Homo sapiens: one gene and its partners. The protein of the gene in region 4 purifies or fractionates together with the protein of the main gene of each other region. This does not show direct contact. Each region holds a gene or a part of one and is shown on either strand. Other genes may lie near its edges. The genes, in order: SLC9A9, TXNDC5, PRMT3, PLOD2, CTSB, DPCD and PYGL.

What was found.
Region 1: the proteins of PLOD2 (region 4) and SLC9A9 fractionate together in Homo sapiens (co-fractionation; one large-scale study listed by BioGRID). This does not show direct contact.
Region 2: the proteins of PLOD2 (region 4) and TXNDC5 fractionate together in Homo sapiens (co-fractionation; one large-scale study listed by BioGRID). This does not show direct contact.
Region 3: the proteins of PLOD2 (region 4) and PRMT3 fractionate together in Homo sapiens (co-fractionation; one large-scale study listed by BioGRID). This does not show direct contact.
Region 5: the proteins of PLOD2 (region 4) and CTSB fractionate together in Homo sapiens (co-fractionation; one large-scale study listed by BioGRID). This does not show direct contact.
Region 6: the proteins of PLOD2 (region 4) and DPCD fractionate together in Homo sapiens (co-fractionation; one large-scale study listed by BioGRID). This does not show direct contact.
Region 7: the proteins of PLOD2 (region 4) and PYGL fractionate together in Homo sapiens (co-fractionation; one large-scale study listed by BioGRID). This does not show direct contact.

What each region holds. Positions count from the first base shown.
Region 1 is NC_000003.12:143,264,722-143,268,095, forward strand, and holds the end of SLC9A9 (sodium/hydrogen exchanger 9), read right to left. Parts: intron 2,209-3,374; coding exon 1,981-2,208; 3' UTR 501-1,980; downstream 1-500. UniProt on the Homo sapiens protein: Endosomal Na(+), K(+)/H(+) antiporter. Mediates the electroneutral exchange of endosomal luminal H(+) for a cytosolic Na(+) or K(+).
Region 2 is NC_000006.12:7,886,789-7,890,288, reverse strand, and holds part of TXNDC5 (thioredoxin domain-containing protein 5 isoform 1 precursor), read left to right. Parts: intron 1-707; coding exon 708-794; intron 795-1,440; coding exon 1,441-1,584; intron 1,585-3,500. UniProt on the Homo sapiens protein: Protein disulfide isomerase of the endoplasmic reticulum lumen involved in the formation of disulfide bonds in proteins. Can reduce insulin disulfide bonds.
Region 3 is NC_000011.10:20,506,216-20,509,715, forward strand, and holds the end of PRMT3 (protein arginine N-methyltransferase 3), read left to right. Parts: intron 1-2,088; coding exon 2,089-2,198; 3' UTR 2,199-3,123; downstream 3,124-3,500. UniProt on the Homo sapiens protein: Protein-arginine N-methyltransferase that catalyzes both the monomethylation and asymmetric dimethylation of the guanidino nitrogens of arginine residues in target proteins, and therefore falls into the group of type I methyltransferases.
Region 4 is NC_000003.12:146,081,185-146,084,684, forward strand, and holds part of PLOD2 (procollagen-lysine,2-oxoglutarate 5-dioxygenase 2 isoform 1 precursor), read right to left. Parts: intron 680-3,500; coding exon 554-679; intron 1-553. UniProt on the Homo sapiens protein: Forms hydroxylysine residues in -Xaa-Lys-Gly- sequences in collagens. These hydroxylysines serve as sites of attachment for carbohydrate units and are essential for the stability of the intermolecular collagen cross-links.
Region 5 is NC_000008.11:11,851,088-11,854,587, forward strand, and holds part of CTSB (cathepsin B isoform 1 preproprotein), read right to left. Parts: intron 2,393-3,500; 5' UTR 2,368-2,392; coding exon 2,242-2,367; intron 1,609-2,241; coding exon 1,523-1,608; intron 1-1,522. UniProt on the Homo sapiens protein: Thiol protease which is believed to participate in intracellular degradation and turnover of proteins. Cleaves matrix extracellular phosphoglycoprotein MEPE. Involved in the solubilization of cross-linked TG/thyroglobulin in the thyroid follicle lumen.
Region 6 is NC_000010.11:101,591,321-101,594,820, forward strand, and holds part of DPCD (protein DPCD), read left to right. Parts: intron 1-3,337; coding exon 3,338-3,418; intron 3,419-3,500. UniProt on the Homo sapiens protein: May play a role in the formation or function of ciliated cells.
Region 7 is NC_000014.9:50,909,984-50,913,483, forward strand, and holds part of PYGL (glycogen phosphorylase, liver form), read right to left. Parts: intron 3,148-3,500; coding exon 3,046-3,147; intron 2,321-3,045; coding exon 2,173-2,320; intron 2,054-2,172; coding exon 1,995-2,053; intron 1,889-1,994; coding exon 1,747-1,888; intron 120-1,746; coding exon 1-119. UniProt on the Homo sapiens protein: Allosteric enzyme that catalyzes the rate-limiting step in glycogen catabolism, the phosphorolytic cleavage of glycogen to produce glucose-1-phosphate, and plays a central role in maintaining cellular and organismal glucose homeostasis.

The DNA of each region.
Region 1 (3,374 bases), 2.8 Mb from region 4:
CACTCCTGCCCCCTACTAAGGTTTGCCTTTTTTGGGTGGATCTTTTCTTTCCTTGGTGTCTTTCTCCACACAAAGAAAACGCCAAGTTCGCCTCCCTTCCTTTTAGCATGATAGGGACAGAAAAAAAGAGGAACCTTTTATCTTTTTGCCTTTCTTTTCTTTCTTTCTCCTCTAGTATCTATCTATCTCCTTCCCCTATTTTTGTAGCTTTTGTGAACCCTGGTCATCCCTAGTGGGAAAGGCGGCATCTGTGCCCCTCTGCTTGACTCAGGTTTCCCTTCTCTGGGACGCCTCCCCAGTCCATCCCTGCTCTCTTCATTCCTTCAGTGACTTGTCTTGCTAGTCTGTTAGCTGTTTCTGGCCCACAGGATCCCTGCATGTCCCATACATTAGCTTTCAGTGCCTGCTTCAGCTGGCACTCTGAGTACAAGAGCTTAGAACCACCAAATCACCTGGAAAGAGAAAATGACTTTAAATAAAGCATTAGCCAAACACAATCATACTTTGTAACAAAAATTTATTAGGATTAAGTCAAATTAGAAAACTTCATGCTCCACCACTTGTCATATTTACCTGAAATGACAAAGTTATACTTAGCTTGAGTGTAAAACTTGTGCCCCAGAGATTCTGTTTGGAAAGCAAAAAAATAATTGATGCACATAGCAGTGTGCCTGATACCACCACAGTGAATGTTGTTTAAGGCCTAACAAACAGTGGTCAGCAAAGCATACATTACTTTTAAGCTTTGGGTCCAAGGAAGATGTCATTCCCTACCTCCTTCAAAAGCAGACTCATCATAGCCTGGGCACCTAGGCCTGGAGCCTATTTTTTCGAGTCTAATATGAACATCTGGATTTCAAGAGGTGCTAGGCTTGAGGTATCTTTATGGCTTAAAAGGCACAGGTCATGCAGCTGAATTAAAAGCTATCATGTTGGTCTCTGGAATGCAGGCCATGAGCCACGCCTTGTAAGGGGGAGACCTGAGGCCCTGTCCTTGGCTCCTCAGTGTAACCCACACATCATTGGCTCTGTTCCTCTCGCCCTGCTCCTGCACTGCTCATCAGCTGTGAATGCTGGAATTGGAGGACAGGTTGGGGCTCCTGCACAGTCTGCTGCCAGGTAGAGAGCAACACAGGCTGCAGAATCCTACCCTCCAGCATATCGCGGGGAGGGGGGGACCTGCTGCACAGCCAAGAAGTGACTCACATGCAGGCAAGGACGGGAAGGCTTGTTCTTCAGGCACAACGTGGTATGGGGAGAAGAAACCTGGTTTTCTTGGAATGGTCCTACTAAGCTTGAAAGTGGTGCTGCATTTAGGGCAGGGCACACCCAGCCATAGGCAACCCCTTTGAGCGATGGGAGAAGTAGCATAAGAAGGATGCCAAGAAGAACAATAGGTTCTTCAACTCAGTGTGGGCTCTGGGAAACCATCAGCAGTGGGTACGGAACACTTCTCTGGGCTCTGCCCTGGGGTCACTGAGAGCAAATGGGAGTCAAGTCCTCAAAATAAGAAACTTATCACTTACTAAATAGCTGGGCATTCCCTTCAGCTTAGGAGCAAAATGTTTACTCTCAGAAGCTTTCTTTTATTTTTAAACTCTCCTTAATGGAGGGAATAAAATCCAGAATAGAAGTGAAGGGCCTGGAGAGCCGCATTCGCAGCAGAAATGCCCTGAAGACCCAGCACAGCTGTCCCATCCTCCAGCAGCTAGACTCCTGATACCTCCATCCCCACCCCAGCCAATCCAGTAATCAGAATGGCTGCTGTCAAAAAACTAAATTCATTTGCATAATAGAGAGGGATAATAAAATCTCATTTCTTCAGGCACCAGAGGATCCATGTGACAAGGCTTTGATTCTCTCCAATTTATGCTCTTAATATGTTTTCCAGCCTCTCCCCTGTACTGCCTCATCAGCTTGGCTTGTATTCCTCAGTGAGTCTTGCATTACTTGTGATTACATCTGTACTCTTCATGCCAATTAATTCAACTGGGATTGACCCAAAGTTTGCTCAAGCTTGAGTTCATAGCCTCCCAGGCCGAGGTCTCCCTCATAAATGTTTTCCTTGCCTGGCGTCTGGGGTGAAGCTTTCTGGTCCAGACCTAGCCTTGCAGGAGGACTGCAGGGTGAGGAGGCTTGCTCCTGGTAATTTATGGCTAGTTCATCCTGGTTTACAATGCATTCCACATCATCCTCTTTTAGCTGTTCCTGGTTGGGAAAAGAGAGAGAGGTGTCACTTCATGATGAAGGCAGAAAACAATAGCAGTCCTACAATTTTTTTTTTTTTTTAAACAGAATGCATGTTTTCCTTTCTGTAACTGCCCTGTCTGGCCTTGGCTGATGTTTCTGCTGCAGGCATGGTACAGCCTTTCCCTGAGTCAGCATTGAATATCTGATGCTGTACAGCCATAAGGGGTCTCTAAGTCTGAGGTAAGAGGTGTTAAAGAGCATGGTACTTTCATTTCCTCTTTGGGTTAAGGATGTTTCCACCACTGGTATTAACTAGGGTTGACAGGAATTAGGAGTTAGCATAATCCTATGATCTCAGAATAGGGGAAGATTCTCATGTTGGTTTTGTAACATTCCTGCCTATCAAAAAATCCTTGAAACACAGTTATTGCTACTTTTTTTTTTTTTTTTTTTTTGAGACAGAGTCTCACTCTGTCATCCAGCCTAGAGTGCAGTGTTGCGATCTCAGCTTACTTCAACCTCTGGTCTCTGGGGTTCAAGTGATTCCCCTGCTTCAGCCTCGCGAGTAGCTGGGATTACAGGCATGTGCCACCATCACATCTGGCTAATTTTTGTATTTTTAGTAGAGACGGGGTTTTGCCATGTTGGTCAGGCTGGTCTTGAACTCCTGACTGCAAGTGATCCATTCACTTTGGTCTCCCAAAGTGCTGGGATTACAGGCGTCAGCCACCACGCCTGGCCTCCTGTTACATTTTACCTTAAAAGTGTGTCTTCTCAGCATATTTCTTGGGAAGAGTATCACAAGTCTAGAAATGGCTGGAAGTCACCATAGTGGATAATGCCAGAAGCTAACTGGATCTGGCTAATAATAATTTTTTCCATACAGAGGTTCCCTTGAAAGAATTAAGATCCCAACTCTTCCTCCACTGGCTTTGGGAAGGCCATACTAAACTACTTGTAGAATGGGCCCTTGCCGGGGGATTTTTAGGGCAGTGGTTTCCAACTTTCGCCTGTCCCAGGATCACATGGAGGGCTTGTTAAAATACAGATCATCGTTCAAGCTCAGGGTTTCTGAGGCGGGGCCTGAGAGTGTGCATTTCTAGCAAGTTCCCAAGTGAGGCTGCTGGTTTGGAGACTACTGTTTGAGAACCACTGCCTTAGGCTTCTGTGCCCTGAACACACCT
Region 2 (3,500 bases), on a different chromosome or scaffold from region 4:
AGTGAATAACAACTTAGTCCTGCCTATTTTAGTGCTGGTAGAAAATAAAAAAGAAAGCAATGACTTAGAACAAGATGTTTCATGAAAATGTTGGGCAAGCAGCAGCTTTATGAGATTTAAATGAAAGAAAAAGCTTGAAGAGCTGTGCTTGTTGGTAAATTAAGTTTATAAAATTAAGGACGGATTATAATCTTGACATCTTTGCAGTCTTACCTTTATTATATACCAACTACTCCTGTTTAAAATTCACTTCTTGCTCCCTGTTGATTTTAAAACCCTCTAAGCTTCAGCATGAGAGTAAATTCTAAGCTGGCATGTGAACTGGTCTGGGTCCCAGTCACCGACAGCCAGGCTAACCCCCCTCCCACCACCACCAAATGTCAAGCCAGGGCCCTGACTCAAGCTACCAGGTGCTGACTTTACTTGCTCGAGTTAAAATGTTGCTTCCTAAAAACCGGCATGTTTAACTGAGCTATTAATACAATAAATCTTGCCTCTAAAGTCTTTCCTTTACTCCTTTTAGCTCAGGTATGTTTTAGCATAGCTTTCAGGAACATTCTCTTCAAAAACTGCACCTTGCTGGCAGAGTTGCTACAGAATGTGGATTTTGAAAAGAATATTTGTAACGTACAAAGTGTCCAGTAGCCCCATTAGCAAGAAGGTTCATGAAGAAACTGACTGGGAAGTTGATCTGCTTTTATTCTCAGGTTGATTGTACACAGCACTATGAACTCTGCTCCGGAAACCAGGTTCGTGGCTATCCCACTCTTCTCTGGTTCCGAGATGGGAAAAAGGTACGTCTGCACTTCTTAGTACTGAGAATTCTTCATCTCTTAACCCCATCAGGCTGAGCTACTGAGTGGTTTAATGGGCACAGTGAATTGCCAATCTTGATTGTTAGGGCACTGGTTTGGAGAAATGTGTATAATGAAACAAACGTCTTTCTCTTAATTGATAAGATTTGGGTTGTGGAGATGAACCTTGAAACATTTCAGTGGCCCAGGTTATCACTAGAATAACCCACATCTTACAGTCACAGGGTAACTGTGCTCTGGTTGTAAACACAAACCTTCAGGCCTTTGAACAGAGCTAAGGCTTGCACTTGGTCCGGTTCTGCCTGCCTCCCTCCCTCCTTCCCTGGCCGATGGTCAGCAGCTCAGAGTTCCCCATCAGCACAACGGCTTGCTGGCAGGCCTCTGCCCCAGACTTCTGTGATGTGTAACCCCGTGGAGGGAAGAGGGGCCTGTACAGTTCTCTCACCAAAGCCGAGGCATTCAGTTATCCTCTCTACATTCCCGTCTAAATATGAACATGCAGACTTTGCACCACCGCTAAGACATCTGGGAGCTCTGACCCGGGCAAGCAGGGGTTGCAGGAAGGCTTAAGTGATTCAGAACACCTCAGTGGACTCACTCAGCCGCGTGCCCGTGTCTTGGCCAGGTGGATCAGTACAAGGGAAAGCGGGATTTGGAGTCACTGAGGGAGTACGTGGAGTCGCAGCTGCAGCGCACAGAGACTGGAGCGACGGAGACCGTCACGCCCTCAGAGGCCCCGGTGCTGGCAGCTGAGCCCGAGGCTGACAAGGTGGGTGCCTGCTGGAGTCGGGATCCCCATAAGTGGCCCGTGGCCCCCGGCCCCCCACCTCCCCACCCTCAGAGGCCTCCTCAAATGCTTTGGACAAAATGACAGTTTGGGGACACAGTCATCTGATGGTTGGCTCCAGTTGCGTTTTCAACACGTATTTTTCATCGACTTTCACATGCTTTCAGGGGCGAATGCAAACAAAAGCTTTCCTTTTGAAAACATGAAATGGATGTGAGACAAATCCCAAGACAATATTTGGTGTCAAAAATCTCTAGAGAATCCTTCCTTTCCGCTTCATTCATTTTAAAGAATGACTCTGCTGGGCATGTTTCTGCTATGAAATCTCGACTGCTGGCCCCGGGGCCCTGATTCTATTCCTGACCTTGCTCCGGGCATTTTCCTTTACCCGTTGTAAAGGCCCCTAGAAGACCTGTAGCCAAGAGGGCATCCGCAGCGATCAGGCCAGTGACTGTAGCTGTAACCTGCCTAGGCAGTCCTGATGCACTGAGGGGCTTCCTTCCTTCACTCAGGTAGCAGGAGGTTTCAGATTCATTTGTTCTGCTTTATGAAGCCCTTGTTATGTCACAGGCACTGTTCTAGGCCACCAGGGAATAAAAATAAGACCGGTTTCCTGCCTCTGAAGCATACAGGTCTCTGAGGCAAATGGTGAGAAGACACACAAGCCAATGGCAGGGGGCTGGGGCAGAAATGTGTGCAGGGCTTGGCTGCTAGAGAGAAGTGGGGGCAAATGGGCAAGAAGTGTCCCTAAGGAGCTGATTGACGGGATCTGTGCTGGACAGATAGGCTGGGCAGGGCTGCCACTGAGGGGCTGCACCAGGAGAGGCACAACCCGAGAATCAGCCGGCATTTCTGCAGGGCCAGAGCTGGGGCTGGGGGAACACAGTGGGAGACAGGTCAGGGTGTGGTGTAGGATCCCTGAGAGTGAGAGAGGAGCTGGAGTTGAGAGTCTGTGGGCAGCTGGCCAAGGATTAGGAACTGTATCCCATATTGACAGGGAGCCCATGGAGGCTCTGTGCAGATTGGAGTTGTAGGAAAATGACCGGCATGCACGTGTGCTGGAGGTGGGAAGCTGCTCTATTAGGCCTTTAAAGATGATGCGTTCCCTCATGCTGCAGCCGTGACTGTGCGATGGCGAGGAGGAGAAAGCCAGCATAAGGAGTCCAGCCGCTGTGCAGCGCGGAGAGGGAGGGAGGGTCCGAGGCGAGTCTGATTCCCGCATATCTGGTGGAGGATGGTACCCAGCACAGGGGCGGGGCCAGAGCTCGAGGAAAGGGATGAGCTTGGTTTTCAAGGTGTTGATCTTCAAGGCTTTCGGCTGTGTAGGTGGCAGTGTCCAGTGGCAGTTCCAACCATGAGCCTGGGGCTGCGGCAGGAGGTCTGCACTGGACGAGAGTGCCCGTGTCATCCTCTTCAGGTAGAAGTCATGCCTGAAGGCCAGGAGTTTGGATTTGGAAAAACCAGTGGGGCCACCAACCCCTCCTCCCTGGTGGGGCCACACCAGGCCTCCTCACCCCTACAACCCTGTCCCTAGTTGGGCTCTTGTAGGTCGGGGATGGCCTGAGTGTTGTTTAAAAGTTGACGTTTTGGTTGAAGAAGTAAACAGCTGATTTTGTAGTTGTCAGGACCACTTATGTTAGAGGAGTGTATGTGTCATGGTGGTTACAAAGGTCATCCCAAATTGAGTATAATTATATACCACGGATGTTTTCATCGCAGCACCATTTCTATTTATAATGCAGTTTTCCACCATGAAGTGGGTCTTTTCAGTGCGTGTGGCGTCATGTTTCTGGACATAAAGATGGTAGTGTTCCACAGTGGCCCCCTTGGCCTCCGTCACTGACATGTTACTCGATGCCAGACTCAAATGGAGCAGCCCTGGTACACTTAGCCACGTG
Region 3 (3,500 bases), on a different chromosome or scaffold from region 4:
AATTATCTAATGATTAACCTGAACTCCATAAAGTTTGTAGAACTATCTGACTGGTAATCTTTATTATGTCCACTATTGGTGAACATGTCATATGAGATAGTTTTATATCATTTTCTTAATATAGAGGAATAGGTCAGATATAAAAGCTAAAGCCAAATATACACATTAACATATATACGTACACAAAAATTGTTATATTTTGTTGAATGGATTGCACCTTGGGCCACATTATTTCTTCTATTATTTAACTCCTTAATTATGTGTTAAACTGTGAGTCTCACCTTTTTTGCAAAGATGTAGAGAAGGTATCAGTAATGGAATCTTTATATTCTGAAAATAAATATAACAGGTGGTTATGTTTTACTTGTGTTATTTCACTACCATCTTGAAAAGCATTCAGATAATTTTCCTTGAATATGGGGAATTTGTATTTTTTTAAATACGATATTCATTCAGTACTTCAATAGTTTTATGTAGATTTCCTTGGTCATTATATGGAGCCTCATTGTGTCCATGCAGATGCTAAAGCTATTCCTGACACTGTTTGGTGTTATCTTAATATTATTTAAGCAAAGAATGGTGATCAACTACAACTTAGCAATTTGTTACTTTTTAAACAGCTCTTTAAAATAAATGAAAAATTAAATGAGAAGTATTTATAATTAGAAAAGTACATAGATAAAAATTTGGAACCTACAGAATTTAGGAAATCAGCCTTTGCACAGGTAAGTAATTTTTGTGTGTTCACTGTTTCACATGGGTACATTGTTTCCCTTTTACAGCACCAGTGCATCAATGGCCAATGGCTTTGTCATGTGCCTCTACATTTTCCCAGCTATAATTTTCAGTTCCTCAAAATGCCATTCCTGAAGGTTCTGTGTATGTGTTTTCCTTAAATACCATTACATGTACATCCCTTAAGCCTGGTTCTCCATGACTTCAGCCCTGGCATTGGGTAATTCATTAATTCTTGTGAAACCTTGCCTTTAACTGCCTTCCAACCATCCCCAGTGCTCACCTCCAGCACACTTTAGACACATGCCTATTGTGTAATTGTTAGTATAGCTTTTTTCTTCACCCTGATCACAAACTCTTTGAGGGCAGGGACCATATCTTTTTTCTAGATGCCCAGAACCCACCATAGGGCCTCATATTTAGAAGTTCAGTAAAATGCTTCCATTGACCCTTTATGACCACAATAGTTTTACTCACTTTCACAAGGATTTGACACTGTGGTATGTAGTTAGTTCTCGCTTCATTCAAAAATTAATGAAACAGGGCTGGGCGCAGTGGCTTACGCCTGTAATCCCAGCACTTTGGGAGGCTGAGGTAGGTGAGCGCATCACCTGAGGTCAGGAGTTCTAGACCAGCCTGGCCAAAATGGCAAAACCTTGTCTCTACTAAAAATACAAAATTAGCAGGTCATGGTGGCGCATGCCTGTAATCCCAGCTACTTGGGAGGCTGAGGCAGGAGAAATCACTTGAACACGGGAGGCAGAGGTTGCAGTCAACTGGGATTGTACCACTGCACTCTAGCCTGGGCAACAGAGAGAGACTGTCTTAAAAAAAAAATTAATGAAACATAATGCTGCTCTAAAAAATGAATATTGGCTGGGCACAATGGCTCATTCCTGTATTCCCAGCACTTTGGGAGGCTGAGGCGGGTGGATCACCTGAGGTCAGGAGTTCGAGACCAGCCTGGCCAACATGGTGAAACCCCATCTCTACTAAAAATAAAAAATTAGCTGGGCATGGTGGCATGCGCCTGTAGTCCCAGCTATTCGGGAAGCTGAGGCAGGAAAATCTCTTGAACCCAGGAGGCGGAGGTTGCAGTGAGCCAAGCTTGCACCAGTGCACTCCAGCCTGGGAGAATGCAGTGAGCTGAGATCACACCACCGCACTCCAGCCTGGGTGACAGAGTGAGACTCCATCTTAAAAAAAAAAAAAAAAAAAAAGAATATTAACCTTAAATAAAGTTTAAAAAGTGGGAAAACATCACAATAAAAAGAAGTGCTAGTTATACATTGTTTACTTTTCTGCTACACTGTATTCCTTGAATTCTTAACAATTTTTGCCTTTGTTTTACAGGTGAAGCCTTGAAAGGAAAGGTCACAGTTCACAAGAATAAGAAAGATCCACGTTCTCTCACCGTGACCCTCACGTTGAATAATTCAACTCAAACTTATGGTCTCCAGTGAAACAGCCATAAAAGCACACTACCTTGTAGTTTTTAATGTGGGGGTAGAGTGGGTCAGCAGGAGGGAGCTGGTTTTATGTGAGCAGATGGATGGATGATGGACCCTTTCCTAATGAGCCTCCTCAATAAGAGAGAAGTTCTCATTGTGGGAATCTGACATAGTTCAGCTGAGGAAGAGAATCAGCTGATCCTCATGGTCTGCCACGTAATCATTTTCTTAGACGTTTGCTCCACCAGATTTAACCAAATGTAACTCCCACATTGAGTTTATCTATATTGAAAATCATTTACATTGGCCTATATTTGGAAGAGAGATAGTCTTTTGTTTTTAATAAGTTTCTTACTATAAATTTTAAACAAATTGGTTAGTTATTTGGATATTTTATTAAACTAGTAACACAGGTACTACACATTTTATTATGGACTCCTCTGAGGAGGAGTTTTTAATTGTATTTGCTAGAAAATCAGGATGTAATAAAGATTTGTATAAAAAAACTAAAATATGGAAAAGAGCTTCAGCCTTCATATACAAATCATATATGCAGACAGCCTAGTTGATTATCTAGCATACTTAGGGTTCTCATTTTGTAGTTTCTTCCCTCTTTGTGACTATTCCTTAGCCTTATAGATTTCTAGTACTGCCCAGGAAATCTAATTTCAATACATTTATCCTAGGTTTCATGAAAGTTTTTAAAGATTGGGATAAATATGTACTTATTTACTAACGTATTATCTTTTTCAAACCAGATTTATGTGCAAAGGTTAAACATGTAACTGTTACTAAGCAGTCTATAAAGTTGTCATTTACAATTACTGATTCAATTTGAAATGTAGAATAAAATTTTAATAAAATGTATCAACTTATAAAATATTTTAAAAATATTGATATTATAAAAGTTTTCAATAAAATATATCAAACAACATTATAAAATATTTCAACAGGGTATGGTAGCTCATACCTATAATCCCAGCATTTGGGAGGCCAAGGCAGGAAGATCACTTAAGCCCAGGAGTTTGAGAGCAGCCTAGGCAACACAGGTCTGTACAAAAAATTCTTTTAAAAAAATTAGCCAGGCATAGTGGTGCATGCCTGTAGTCCTAACTACTTGGGAAGCTGTGGTGAGCAGATTGCTTGAGTCCAGGAGTTGGAAACTACAGTAAGTCAAGATCGTGCCACTGCACTCCAGCCTGGGTAACAGAGAAAGACTCTGTCTCTAGAAAAGTTAATTAATTAAAAGTAAAAAACAGGGCCAGGCATGGTGGTTCATGCTTATAATCACAACACTTTGGGAGGCCAAGGCAG
Region 4 (3,500 bases):
AATCATGCACACACTTTTCAGCAAATATATTCTTTTCAATCTCTAGAAGTGAAAATCTAATATTGGTAAAAAAAACTTGTATTTAAAGCAGAATAATAGCTATTTCACACAAAAAAACTCATGCAATCAGGAATACTGGAATGTTCTGGCTGTTAGTGTTACTGTTGGCTTAATTATAAATTTTAAAACCTATCAAAACAACCCTTAATTATAACCATTAAAAAGTTAGTAAACTAAATCCCCTTTCCAAGCTTTTAAATAAAGAGTATTACTCTTCTATCAACCATAATGTGAGTATGGTAAACATATATTATCTCTTAGTATTCCCCACAGCAATGAGCTTGTTCCTTTGAAGATTTGGGACTTTAAAAACATTTTTTTAAGATATTAGTTTTATACTAGTATTTCAGGATTCCAAGTGGTCTTGGGTTCTCAAATTCCCATTAACTATAAAGAAAAGAGATGAATGCAAAAAAAATTTCAAGTAATACTAACAAGACTACATCTTTAGATTATGGTATTTCACATTAAAATATTAAACCAAGTAACTTACACTCTATTCCCTTGAACAATATCCACATAATCTTCAGATCGTGCATAGTATCCATCAGGACTCAATGCTCCCCAGAAATTGGACCACAGCTTTCCATGACGAGTTACAAGAGGAGCAATGATCTTTCTAAAGACAGAGAGAGTGTGTGTGAGAGAGAGAAACCTATATAATTATTTATTTTTAAATTACCACAGAATTATGTATTTTGGGCTTAGTATGACATATAACACAAGAAAGCTCATTCAACAAACCTGTAGTTAATAAAAATAAAATAAGGATCTTCTTTCCCAACATCTTTTCTTAAGTAAGTATATTGCTAATTTTCAATCATATTTCTTAAAAAGAGTAACAAAGAAGGAAAAAGTAATTGAAAATGCTAATGAATACATAAAAATGACTTTTAAAAATGCCTTGCTTACATCCAACAGAGGGAAACTACTTTAGTTATTTAATTATATTTAAGTTTAACTAAAGTATTTCGGAACCTATATTAAATGAAACCAAATATTTTCATTGTCACTGGGTGAACAACAGCCCCTGGTGCATTTAAGATATTCAATGAATATTTGTTGAATTTGTAAAAAATGAATGAAGATGAACTGAGATGTTTGTAAACAGGCAAAGCTTTCCTGTAATTAAGTCTCAAATTACTTAAGTATGTTTCCAGTTTTCCATGACTTTAAAAAATGACTTGTGATTACAGTAAGCTAGTCCTGGCAACACTGAACTTTCCTTTAACTATTTTAGAAAGCAAATTTATGGAACAACTATTCTTTATATGAAAAAAGAAAACCTATTTCACCTCTATCTTGTGAAGACCAGCCGGGCCCTTTCTATTACATGCACAAAAGTGAAATAAATAAACACACATCGGGCCCGGCGCAGTGGCTCATGCCTGTAATCCCAGCACTTTGGGAAGCCGAGGCGGGCGGATCACAAGGTCAGGAGTTTGAGACCAGCCTGACCAACATGGTGAAATCCCATCTCTACTAATAATACCAAAAAAAGTTAGCCAGGCATGGTGGCACGCACCTATAATCCCAGCTAATCAAGAGGCTGACACAGGAGAATCGCTTGAACCCGGGAGGCGGAGGTTGCAGTGAGCCAAGATCATGCCACTGCACTCCAGCCTGGGCGACAGAGCAAGACTCCATCTCAAAAAAATAAATAAATAAAAATAAATACACATCATGCAAAATAATAAATTTTGGTTTATTCTTCCGAATTCCTACTAAACTATTAATCAGAAACACATGTTTTGTTTTGTTTTGAATACCTACAATACTGGAAATAATAACATGAATTAGAATCTACATACATTAATTTGGGAAATAATTCAATATGAATATCAAACATTTAATTTAAAAAGAACTTGTAATTTATAATCCCAGCTGCCTCCTGAAAAGGTTTAAACCAACAAATTTGGGAAACCAAAATTCATCTGCTGTATACCTCAATGTTTTTGTGAATAAAAATGTAAGGATGGCAGCTGAGGAATGATTCATATTATTATACAATTTAAGGAGTAAAATTTAGAGCAAGGGAGCAAATAGAGATAGGGAGAGAAGAGGAAAAAAGAGAGCTGATGAGAAGGTAGAAAGCCACATGCCCAAGATGTGTCAAATCTCTTTCTCTACTCTTCAGTCCAATCTACTAAATCTTGCAACATTCCTGGCATATGTCAATAGACTATAGAAACCACATGTCTAGATACAGAAGCAAGAACCATAGGTATTACATAAACCTAAACCTTTGATTAACTAACAGAATTCCATGGAGACACAGCCTGAGTTTTACTCTTTAAGGGGCAAGGGCCCCAGATGGCAGGTAAGTCTTTTTCTTTTTTTTTTTTTTTTTTTTTTGAGACGGAGTCTCGCTGTGTCGCCCAGGCTAGAGTGCAGTGGCGCAATCTTGGCTCACTGCCAGCTCCACCTCCTGGGTTCACACCATTCTCCTGCCTCAGCTTCCCGAGTAGCTGGGACTACAGGTGCCCGCTACCACGCCCGGCTAATTTTTTGTATTTTTAGTAGAGATGGCGTTTCACTGTGTTAGCCAGGATGATCTCGATCTCCTGACCTCGTGATCCACCCACCTTGGCCTCCCAAAGTGCTGGGATTACAGGCGTGAGCCACCACACCCGGCCGGGAATTTTTTTTCTTTTAGAAGATTTAAAATGTTTAATATTAAGAGGGATATATGTCAAATACATAGTGTAAATTCATTAAATAGTTCACTAAGAGAATAATTAATAAATATATAAATTATAGTCATAAAATGAAAATATCTAATTATTAAAAAGCATATGGGCATTACACACTATAGCATTTCAATCAAATTAAGAGAAAACAATGCAAATTCAAGAAAATAGTACTGAATTAAACTAGGTTTTAAGAGTTACAAATCATACACTATTTCATATCTCTAGGGTGTCACAACTGCTTTTCCTTGCCAAATGATCAAAACCTCATTCATATGCTTTGGAAAATTACCTACGATGTATATAGATAGTTAACTTAGATACTGAGTATCTATAACACAGCTATACAGTTGGGCTGTATATACAGGTTGCTACAGAGAGGTCTTAGATTTTTGAAGTAAGAACTAAATTCTCAAATTTACAAATTCTAGTGATATATATATATAGATAGATATTATATATAGGGTGGGTTAATAAAGCATACTACATTTCCCATGTATCTTACTTAACAAAATAAAAACAATCATTCTAACATTTCACCCGCTAAACATTCTATTTATTATGAGAAATAATTGTGTTAATACATGTACTTACAACAATACCTGGCACTTAATAAGCACTTGTTAAAGGTGAGGTCTTAGCAGGAGTAGTAAAAATGGTATTATTAGTATTAGCAGTAGTATTGACAAACAAACTTAGTATCATTGTAAGCTGATATACATGGTGTCTTTTTCCCATTTCAATTGAGTT
Region 5 (3,500 bases), on a different chromosome or scaffold from region 4:
ACAAGACATGCCGAAGAAGGCTGCAGACAGGTGTCCTTGGTAATTTCATAAAACAAAAGGAAATTCTGTTGCTCAATGCACCTTTTGATTTTTTTTTTGGGTGGGACGGGAGGGTGGGAGTGGACAGAATTTCACTGTGTCATCCAGGCTGGAGTGCAGTGGCGAGATCTCTGCCCACTGCAACCTCTGCCTCCTGAGTTCAATCGATTCTCGTGCCTCAGCCTCCTGAGTAGCTGGGATTACAGGCATGCACCACCACACCCGGCTAATTTTTGTATTTTTAGTAAAGACAGGGTTTCACCATGTTGGCCAGGCTGGTCTTAAACTCCTGGCTTCAAATGATCTGCCTGCCTTGGCCTCCCAAAGTGCTGGGATTACAGGCATGATCCACCACACCTGGCCTGACTTGCGATATTGTACGCTTCTTTCTAGGCTTATGTAATGGATTTTTTAAGATGAATTTATCCACAAATTATAAACTCATTTTTAAATAAGTTTATTCAGTCCAGATAGTGTTTCTTGCCCTGCTCTCCTGCCTCAACCTCTGCCCAGGATCCTCTCATCATTTCTCATATCATCCCCATTGTGCAGAAGGCAGTGTCGTGCAACTTAACTACCCCATCCTCACGTGGGAAGTGGCATCATCTCAGCTCACCGCAACCTCTGCCTCCCGGGTTCATGCGATTCTCTAGCCTCAGCCTCCCGAGTAGCTGGGATTACAGGCGCCCGCCACCACGCCTGGCAAAGTTTTTTATTTTTAGTAGAGACGGGGTTTCATCATGTTGGTCAGACTGGTCTCGAACTCCTGACCTCAGGTGATCCGCTTGCCTTGGCATCCCAAAGTGCTGGGATTACAGGCGTGAGCCACCATACTTGGCCTCATCTGGCTTTTCTTAGATTTCCCTTAAATTACTCAAGATTGAGTCTGCCCACATAGTGGGGACCCAGACCTTGTCTGTCACATCTGCGGCTGAGACACCTTGGAGAAGCACAATAGAAAACACTGGGGGTGGCTCATGCCGGTAATCCCAGCACTCTGGGATGCCGAGTTGGGCAGATGACTTGCTGAGGCCAAGAGTTCGAGACGAGCCTGGCCAGTATGGCGAAACCCAGTCTCTACTAAAAATACAAATATTAGCCGTGCACGGTGGTGCAAGCCTGTGGCCCCAGCTACTCAGGAGGCTGTGGCATGAGAATCGCTTGAACCCGGGAGACAGAGTTTGCAGTGAGCCAAGATCGTGCCACTGCACTCCAGCCTGGGTGACAGAGTGAGACTCTCTCAAAAACCAAAAAAAAGCACCAGCATCTTCTCTACTAATAACTTGAGAAGGAAAAAATAAAATAAAAAGAGAAAGTAATATAAAAATGAAAAGAAACAAGTACTGTACCTCAAGCGGTGTCGGCAGCCCTGGGCAGCATGAGCCCTGCGGACGCCAGAGAGGCCTTCACTCTCCCACTTCCCACTGCCCCAAACCAACGCCTGCCACTCACATTACAGCGGTGCAGAGGAGCAGGCACTCACCTCTGGGGTGGCTTGGGCCCACCCAGGAAGGTACCACATAGCCTCTTCAAGTAGCTCATGTCCACGTTGTAGAAGTTGTGCCCGGCCTGGAAGAGAGTCACCCACTGACTGAAGGGTCTCCCGGGATGGCGGTGGATGGGCACGCTGCCCACACACGAAGCCCAACCCAGGGAAAACCAGAGACCCTACCCAATTCAAGGGCCCAAGGGTTGGGGGGCACTGGGGAACAGCCCAGAGTGACACACGGGCAGAGTGGGTGTCTCCCCTGATCTGCTCCCATTTGCTGACAATCAGAGACCCTCTCCAGCCCTCAACATGGCTCACTCCTCATTCTTGGTTCTCAGTCCGAGGGTCAGGGCTGGGCAGAGACAAAGGGAATCAGGGGCGGGACTGATAAACTGCCACTGTGCCACGGCGGGCGTCACAGGGGCTAGCTGGTTTTGAACACTTCCGAAGCTCACTTACTCCCCCACACACCTCCACGTGCACACAACCATATATTCATACACATGCACACACACTCATGCACACACGTGGGGTATGGGACAAAGGAGGGAGGCGTGGTCCAGAGCCGACATGACTCAGGGTCAGGGCCATTTTTCAACAGTCCAGGACAATGTTCTGTGGGCCACAGTGAGGGCTGGCTTCCCATTCCTGGAGTCAGTGTGCACAGACCGACCTGGGAGGGGACATACATAGGACGCAGCCCCACAGCCTACCTGCCACGTGGTATTCCGTTTGTTGACATAGTTGACCAGCTCATCCGACAGGGGATGGAAAGAGGGCCTGCTCCGGGCATTGGCCAACACCAGCAGGCAGCAGAGGGAGGCCCAGAGCTGCCACATGTTGGAAGCCGGATCCTAGATCCACCTGGAGAGGACAGAGGGCATCAGGACACCTCTCTGTTATGTGGGTCGAGGGCTCACACACACAGGGGCACCGTCTCGGGCATCAGTGGGGACCCCCATGCTCGTCCTGGCCCAGGCGGAGAACTCTTAAGGAGCTGAGGTGTCTATGGGATCCCCGCCCCCCTGCCCGAAGCACGCCATGACCTCGTGTGGGTCCCCGGGGGCCAGGCGGCCAGAGCCCAGAGAGAGAGCCAAGGGGCTGTGCTGGACGAGACCGAGTCCAGGGCCTTCGCTGCTATTTTTAAACGGCCTTTGCATGGATTTGTAGAACAGCTTGAGACACTTTCCCAAGTGAGTGATATGAAACAGTTAAGAGCCTGTCTGTGTGATTACACCCTAAGTGGAGGACCCAGGGGACAGGGAAATGTAAGAAAAGTTACAATCCAGGAGTCCTAGTTTCGACAGGACACAGACAAACAAGCTCGGTGTGGGCTGGTGGAGGTTGAGGCTGAGAGGTGGGGCTGGGCTGGCCATCCACCCACTCCCGGGGCCTCTCTGGTTTTTCCAGTCAGCCAAGGGCTCTGCTTCCGGCTGCGGAGATGAGGCTTCTGAGAAGGAAAACTCTCACCTCGATGCCCCAGCCGTTTGATCTTGCACTGGCTCATGAGTCACAAGCCAGTGCTTTCCAGCTTGAACTCTGAGTCACCCTCCTAAGTGAGCAGCTCAACAAAAGCAATACATGTCTCCTGGGCGCCTGCATCCAGGGCTGGGGAGAGCCGCGGCGCGGGGAGCTGGGTGAGGCAGGGGTTCCTGTCAGTCACTCCAGGGGCTCCCACGGGTGGGTGAGGTGTTCTACCTCCCACAGGTCACAGGTCGTCATGAAAGTCACAGGACTGCGGTGTCAGTGCTTAACAAACTGCCTGGCACCTAGGGGTTCTATCTGAAGAACAATTTAAACTTCATTGTTGCTTAAGCAACAATTCATCTAGGAGAATAAATATATGAGGACAGCAAGATGGCTCTGGAAAAAAGCTTTTTTTTTTTTTTTGAGACAGGGTCTTGGTCTGTGGGCCATGTCACCCAGTCTGGGGTACAGTGGCACAATCTTGGCTCACTGCAGCCTCCACCTC
Region 6 (3,500 bases), on a different chromosome or scaffold from region 4:
TTTTGGTCACAGAAGTTTTTAAACAAATATTTTATCAGCCAGGATTTTGTTAAGTTCTTTTGTTAGTAGCATCACAAAATGATATTGTTAAGATTCCACCCTATCCCCAGACTGAAAAACAACTCAGTATTGCATATGTGGTTAAGCCTTGTCAAACCTGCAGATTTACCCCTGGGTGTGTAGGAGGGGTGTGGGGAGTAGGGGGGAGGTTACTCCCTTCCACCAAGAATCATGGCTATTGATATCTTGGGCTGGATAATGAGACTCCATTTTACTTTTGTTTTTTTAAGAAATAATTACATTCATTGTGGAAATATGAAAAATAAAGAAGTCAAATATAATATTACCACCCAGATAATCATAATTTACTTTTTTTTTTGAGACAAGTTTCACTCTTGTTGCCCAAACTGGAGTGCAATGGCGCAATCTCGGCGCACTGCAACCTTTGCCTGCTGGGTTCAAGCGATTCTCCTATCTCAGTCTCCTGAGTAGCTGGGATTATAGGCGCCCGCCACCAAGCCCGGCTAATTTTTTTTTTAATTTTTAGTAGAGACAGGGTTTCACCATGTTAACCAGGCTGGTCTCAAACTCCAGACCTTAGGTGATCCGCCTGCATCGGCTTCCCAAAGGGCTGAGATTACAGGCGTGAGCCGCCTCGCCCAGCCCATAATTTATATTTTTATACATAAACTTCTATATTATTTCATGCATACACTCACAGTTATTTTTCTTTTACAAAAATATACTAATATACTTAATAATTTATATATACATTTATTTCTAGAATAAATATACTATTAAAACAAAGTATAGATAAGTATCGAATAATCATTGGGTAAGGGAAGATGCTCTGAGTGCAACTTCTAAGGCAGTAACCACAAAGAAAGAAAATATATAGTTGGCTTTATAAAAACTAAACACCTGTGTTGGGTACCTGTAATCCCAGCTACTGGGGAAACTGAGGCAGGAAGCTCACTTGAGGCCAGAAGTTTGAGGCTGTAGTGTGCTATAATCATGCCTGTGAATAGCCACTGCACTCCAGCCTAGGGAACATAGCCAGACACTCTTAAAAAACAAAAACACTTGTTTGGGAAAACCCACTTTAAACAAAGTTAAGGGCCAGGCGTGGTGGCTCACACCTGTATTCTCAACACTTTGAGAGGCCAAGGCAGGAGGATCACTTGAGCTCAGGAGTTTGAGATCAGTCTGGGTAACATAGTAAGACCCCATCTCTACAAAGAAATTTAAAAATTAGCTGGGCATGGTGGTGTGCAACCATGGTCCCAGCTACTCGGGAGTCTGAGGTGGAGGATCACTTGAGCCCAGGAGGCAGAGGTTGCAGTGAGCCGAGATCACACCACTGCACTCCAGCCTTGGCAACAGAGCAAGACACTCTAAAAAAAAGCCTCAGTTGGCCGGGCGTGGTGGCTCATGCCTGTAATCCCAGCCCTTTGGGAGGCTGAGATGGGCAGATCACGAGCTCAGGAGATTGAAACCATCCTAGCCAAAATGGTGAAGCCCTGTGTCTACTAAAAATACAAAAATTAGCTGGGTGTGGTAGCATTCACCTGTAGTCCCAGCTACTCAGGAGGCTGAGGCAGGAGAATTGCTTAAACCCGGGAGGCAGAGGTTGCAGTGAGCCGAGATCACACCACTGCACTCCAGCCTGGCGACAGAGCGAGACTCTGTCAAAAAAAAAAACCCTCACTTTTCCTCATCTATGAAATACAGGTAATGAAAACACATAGGATTATTGTGAGAATTAAATTTGATAAGACATGTGAAATGCCTGGATTTAGTAAGCGCTGCATCCTGCCTGGACTCAAGGCTGGATGCCAAGGGGAGAAGATGGTCAGGCAAGACCCCCTCAGCTCCTCCCAGGCAGTACCTTGGATCCCGCTCCTGACAGGAGAGCCCTTTCTAATGCCTGTGAGCCATCCAAATGATTAAGGGTGGTATTACCTAGGGCTCTGCTAGAGGCCCTGCAAATTTAGGGGTGAGTTTATGCAGAATACAGATTAGGAATGGCTCAAGGGAACTGTATCCCAGAGAAGTGAATTGGACAGGAAAAAGGCACCTTGGGGCTCTTATTCATCAAGCATACATAGGGTACTTGTCTACTGGATGTTAGTGCTCTGTTACTAGTTTTACTGAGGAGTCTGCCTGTATCTACTTCCCTACCTATAAAAAGAAAGGGGAAATTACATAGCCACTCTTAAGCAAATGCTCCAGGGGTAGAGGAATTGGGCTAGGAGACTCCCTTAGTTTCTTCTTCTTCTTTTTTTTTAGACAGAGTCTCACTCTGTTGCCCAGGCTGGAGTGCAGTGGCACAATCTCAGCTCACTGAAACCTCCGCCTCCCGGGTTCAAGCAATTCTCCTGCCTCAGACTCCTGAGTAGCTGGGACTACAGGCACCTACCACCATGCCCAGCTAACTTTTTTGTATTTTTAGTAGAGATGGGGTTTCACCATGTTGGCCAGGCTGGTCTTGAACTCCTGGCCTCCCTTAGTTTCTTCTGTTCTTTCAACGGATAGTGCATCAGTGTTTATTCATCCTTTCAATCAGTATTTAGTTGAGCTCCTAGTATATGCCAGGAGCCACACTTGGTCTTTAGGAAACCATAGCATGGGGATAAAACCCCTCCTATCTAGTAGAAGAGATAGGCAGTAATCAAAGAGTCACATAAAAAGATGTAAAATCATAACCAAATTAAGTGCCATGAAGAAAATACATGGGGACTTAACATTGTGTTACTGTGTGATAGGAATGGCCTGGAGATATGCAGAAGAAGGCAGGGCACTGGCATGGCTAGAGGGAGTGCTTGGTCAGGAAACCCAATTCAATGTCCTGAACACATAGAGAGATAAATACGATGTCATTCATGGGAAGACAAATGCTTTTAAAAGTATCATGGTATGTAGTAAATGCTCCACTATGGATACGAGTAAAACATTAGGGAGGCACACATGAGGATGTGATTAATCCTACCAAAGTGGCTGGAGGTGATAGTGGAGGAAGACTTCCCAGTGGAAGTGACATTTGAGCTGGATTTTGAAGGGCAAAGAAGAGTTCCACAGATAGGAAAAAATATGGAGCTGTTGCTGGTAGAGGAAACAGCAGGGCAAAGATGTTCAAGGAAAGCTTCAGAAAGGGAGAGAGTCTCAGGACACGTTTTAAAGTAATGGTGGGTGGTGGTTGGCAAGGAGTTTGGGGAGGTCCTGGCTGGGTTCCTCAGTACTCCCAAGGCTGGCACTGTTTCCCAGGTAGGCCCCTTGATCTGCAAGGGACAGGGCAAGGGGAGACTTTGAGGTAAGGCATTCTCTGTTTTGTGCATAGGGAGAAGGAAGGTTCACTATTTATTCCCAGACGGCAAGGAAATGGCTGAAGAATATGACGAGAAGACGAGTGAACTACTTGGTAAGTGACAGAGGCTCCCAGTGGGCCTTTAGTAATACTTGGGGCTGACATAAGCACAATGAACACTCCTAGCCTTAGGCTT
Region 7 (3,500 bases), on a different chromosome or scaffold from region 4:
GGCCCCATCCATGGTCCCGATAGTTAGGGCCCCATTTAGCATGAACTTCATATTGCCTGTCCCCGAGGCTTCGGTGCCTGCAGTGGAAATCTGCTCTGACAGATCTGTGGCTGGAATGACTGCAAGAAAGGTAAGTTAAAATTAGTAATTTTGTCTGTCTAGATCTGCTTGTATTGTATTGAAGCATTTATTAAGTTGGGCTGTTTTGATAATTAAAGTAATACATGCACATTAAGATAAACATTCAAATGGTCTAGAAGGCAGATCACACTCTTTCCCCTTGACTCAGGCAACCACTTTTGTCCATTTTATATGCTTGTATTTCTTTCTCGAGCTATAAACTTTGAAGAGTATCTATTGACTGCGACAAACATTGATACTACATTTCTCTTCTTCCTTTTATTCCTTCCAATTTTTGTTACAGTTTTATTTTTATTTCTTCTACTTTATAAAATATATTGAAATTTCTCTTTTTTTCTTTCTCTTTTTTGGTACAGGGTCTCTCTCTGTCACCCAGGCTGGAGTGCAGTGGTGCGATTACAGCTCTCTGCAGCCTTGACCTCCTAGGCTCAAGCAATCTTCCTGCCCCAGCCTCCCAAGTAGCTGCAATTACAAGCGAGCACCACCATGTCCAGCTAATTTTTTAAAATTTTTGTATGTATGGGGTCTCCCTATGCTGCCCAGGCTGAACTTCTCTCTCTTGATCCATAACATTCAGAGTGTCCCTCCAGGACTCCTCTTTGGCAACCTGAGGAGACTGGATTGTCTGCATTCCTTCTACTTCTCACCTCCTTCCTTCCACTTTTCCTGCAGGGAAATAAGCCACACGTAATTGAGGTGTGCCTGGGGCTAGACATCTAGCCTCTGACCTTTCAGGCTGATTTGCACGCAAATTAGAGCTGCCTGAAGCACTTCCTTTGACTACAAAGGTCAGGACCACTTTTCTGCTTTACTGTGAGAGCTTATTTGTGGATTAGATGTATCTTCTTTTGCATCCCTAGGAACCTGGCTCTTCTCCCTTTATGCAGAGAGTTCTTAAACAGTAACATCAGAGGACCTAAAAACACCACAAAAAGAAAAAGCTCCCTTTCTACCTTTTCAGTTTGGGAAGTGGGTGAATACACAGTTGGGCATTTGCATGTGGATGGTGCTCTGTGAGCTTGTGACCCAAATAACCAAAGGTCCCAGTGGAAGAGAAAGGGACACTGGCTTCTTGCCCATCTGGCTGTCCCCATGTGGGAGCATCATGCTTGATGCTGAAGTGCCCATGTGAGGCACATCTAAGCCTCGTGCTTTGGCAGCCTCACATCTGCCCTCATTTATTATTGATACAAGAGCAAGTGACAGCCCTTCTTCTCACAGGGTGACCAAAGAAATATCTGAAGACTGGGGATTTGGTGTTCTCTTGCAAAACTGGGGCTGGGAACTGAAGACCTTTCCTCTGTTTTATAGAGCGGGTTCTGAATGATGCTGAAACCCCAGGGCTGCCTCCCCCAGCACATAGCTCTCACTGGCTTGGAAGAAAATGTACTTGCAAGTATAATCCTGTGATACTGACTCCAGGACATCAATTTCATTGTGACTTGGGTCACTTTAAAACCTCTTACCGTAGGCCCTTATTCTGCACAAGAGTGACACCTTCTATCCTAAGTTACTAGCTCCTGGAGGTTGGCTGCCCCATCTTTCATACCATGTAATCTCTAGAGTTTGCCCTGGCCCCTGCATATTTTGCAATGAGGGTAGTACCTTTTTCAGCAAGAGATACTCTGTAGTTCTCCAAGAAGATGACTTTCAACTTGCTTCCAACCATAGGGTCATTGTTCACCACATCTGCCACTGAAGTGATCAGCTTTATGATCATTTTGGCCATGTGATATCCTGGGGCAGCCTTTGGGGAAGAAGGTCAAACGCATTGACAGAAGGCAGCCATGATGAAGTAGAAGAATGGCAAGAGATTAGAGCCCTCAAGTCCCCATTGAATAGATTCAACTTACTTTACCACCAATGATAACTGTCCTTGGCACGAATAACTTCTTAGGGTCTTTCTTAATGCCTGAAAAAGATGGAGAAGTGGATGAAATGGAAGACAGCTGACGGTCAGGGCAGTGAGACCTATGCTGAGTCTGCTGCTTCCACCTGCAAGGGGGCTTGTTGGCTACAGGGCTGACTCACGGTTGTACATCGTGATCACATGCAGACAGTTCAAGAGCTGTCGCTTGTACTCATGTATCCTCTTCACCTGGACATCAAACATGGAGGATGGGTTGATCTTCACTTTGTACTCCGTCTCCAGGAACTGAGAAAACTTCAGCTTATTCTCCTGTTAAGACAGTGCATGGTGCCAGAGCTCTTTTGGCCTAGAAGAATTGGGTGGTCTGGTTTTTCTTTTTTTTGAGACGGAGTCTCACTCTTTTGCCCAGGCTGGAGTGCAGTGGCATGATCTCAGATCACCGCAGCCTCCACCTCCCACATTCAAGCGATTATCCTATCAGGGATTACAGGTATACACCACTACTGCCTGGCTAATTTTTGTATTTTTAGTAGAGACGGGGTTTCATCATGTTGGCCAGAGTGGTCTTGAATGCCTGACCTCAGGTGATTCACCCTCCTTGGCTGCCCAAGTGCTAGGATTACAGGGATGAGCCACCGCGCCCGGCTGGGTGGTCTGTTTTTAAAAACTACAGGATAGGCCGGGTGTGGTGGCTCATGGCTGTAATCTCAGCACTTTGAGAGGCCGAGGCGGGTGGATCACTTGAGGTCAGGAGTTCGAGACCAGCCTAGCCAACATAGTGTAACCCTGTCTCTACTAAAAATACAAAAATTAGCCGGGCGTGGTGGCGGGCGCCTGTCATCCCAGCTGCTTGGGAGGCTGAGGCGGGATAATCGCTTGAACCTGGGAGGCGGAGGTTGCAGTGAGCCGAGATCGTGCCACTGCACTCCAGCCTGGGCAACAGAGCGAGACTCTGTCTCAAAAAATAAACAAAAACTACAGGATAAACTCTCACAGTGAGTGCCCAGGAGGGGACCCACACCTGGAAGGCTCACCTGCTTCACCTTGGCGAGTTCCCGGAGGAAGACATCATCACCCAGGAAGCTGTGGAGCTTCGTCAGCTGGCTCAGGTCTTTCACATAGTCTTCTCCAATTTTCTTTCAATTCAAAGGAAAAGATGACTTCAATTTGGGGATGGTAATCAAGTCCAAATGGGCAGTTTCTGTCAGTATTTCTCTCTGTCACCTACCACAGTGTAGTTCACGTATCACACAGAACATGGGATAGTTTGACTCAAAGAAGAGTCTATAAAGTCTATGTGAGAAGAACACTTTTGCTAGTATCTTAAATGTAGTTTCAGCAGTTTTTAAAAATTATTTTTATTTATTTATTTTTATTTATTTATTCATTTTTTTTGAGATGGAGTCTCGCTCTGTCGCCCAGGCTGGAGTACAGTGGCACGATCTCGGCTCACTGCAAGCTCCGCCTCCTGGGTTCATGCCATTCTCCT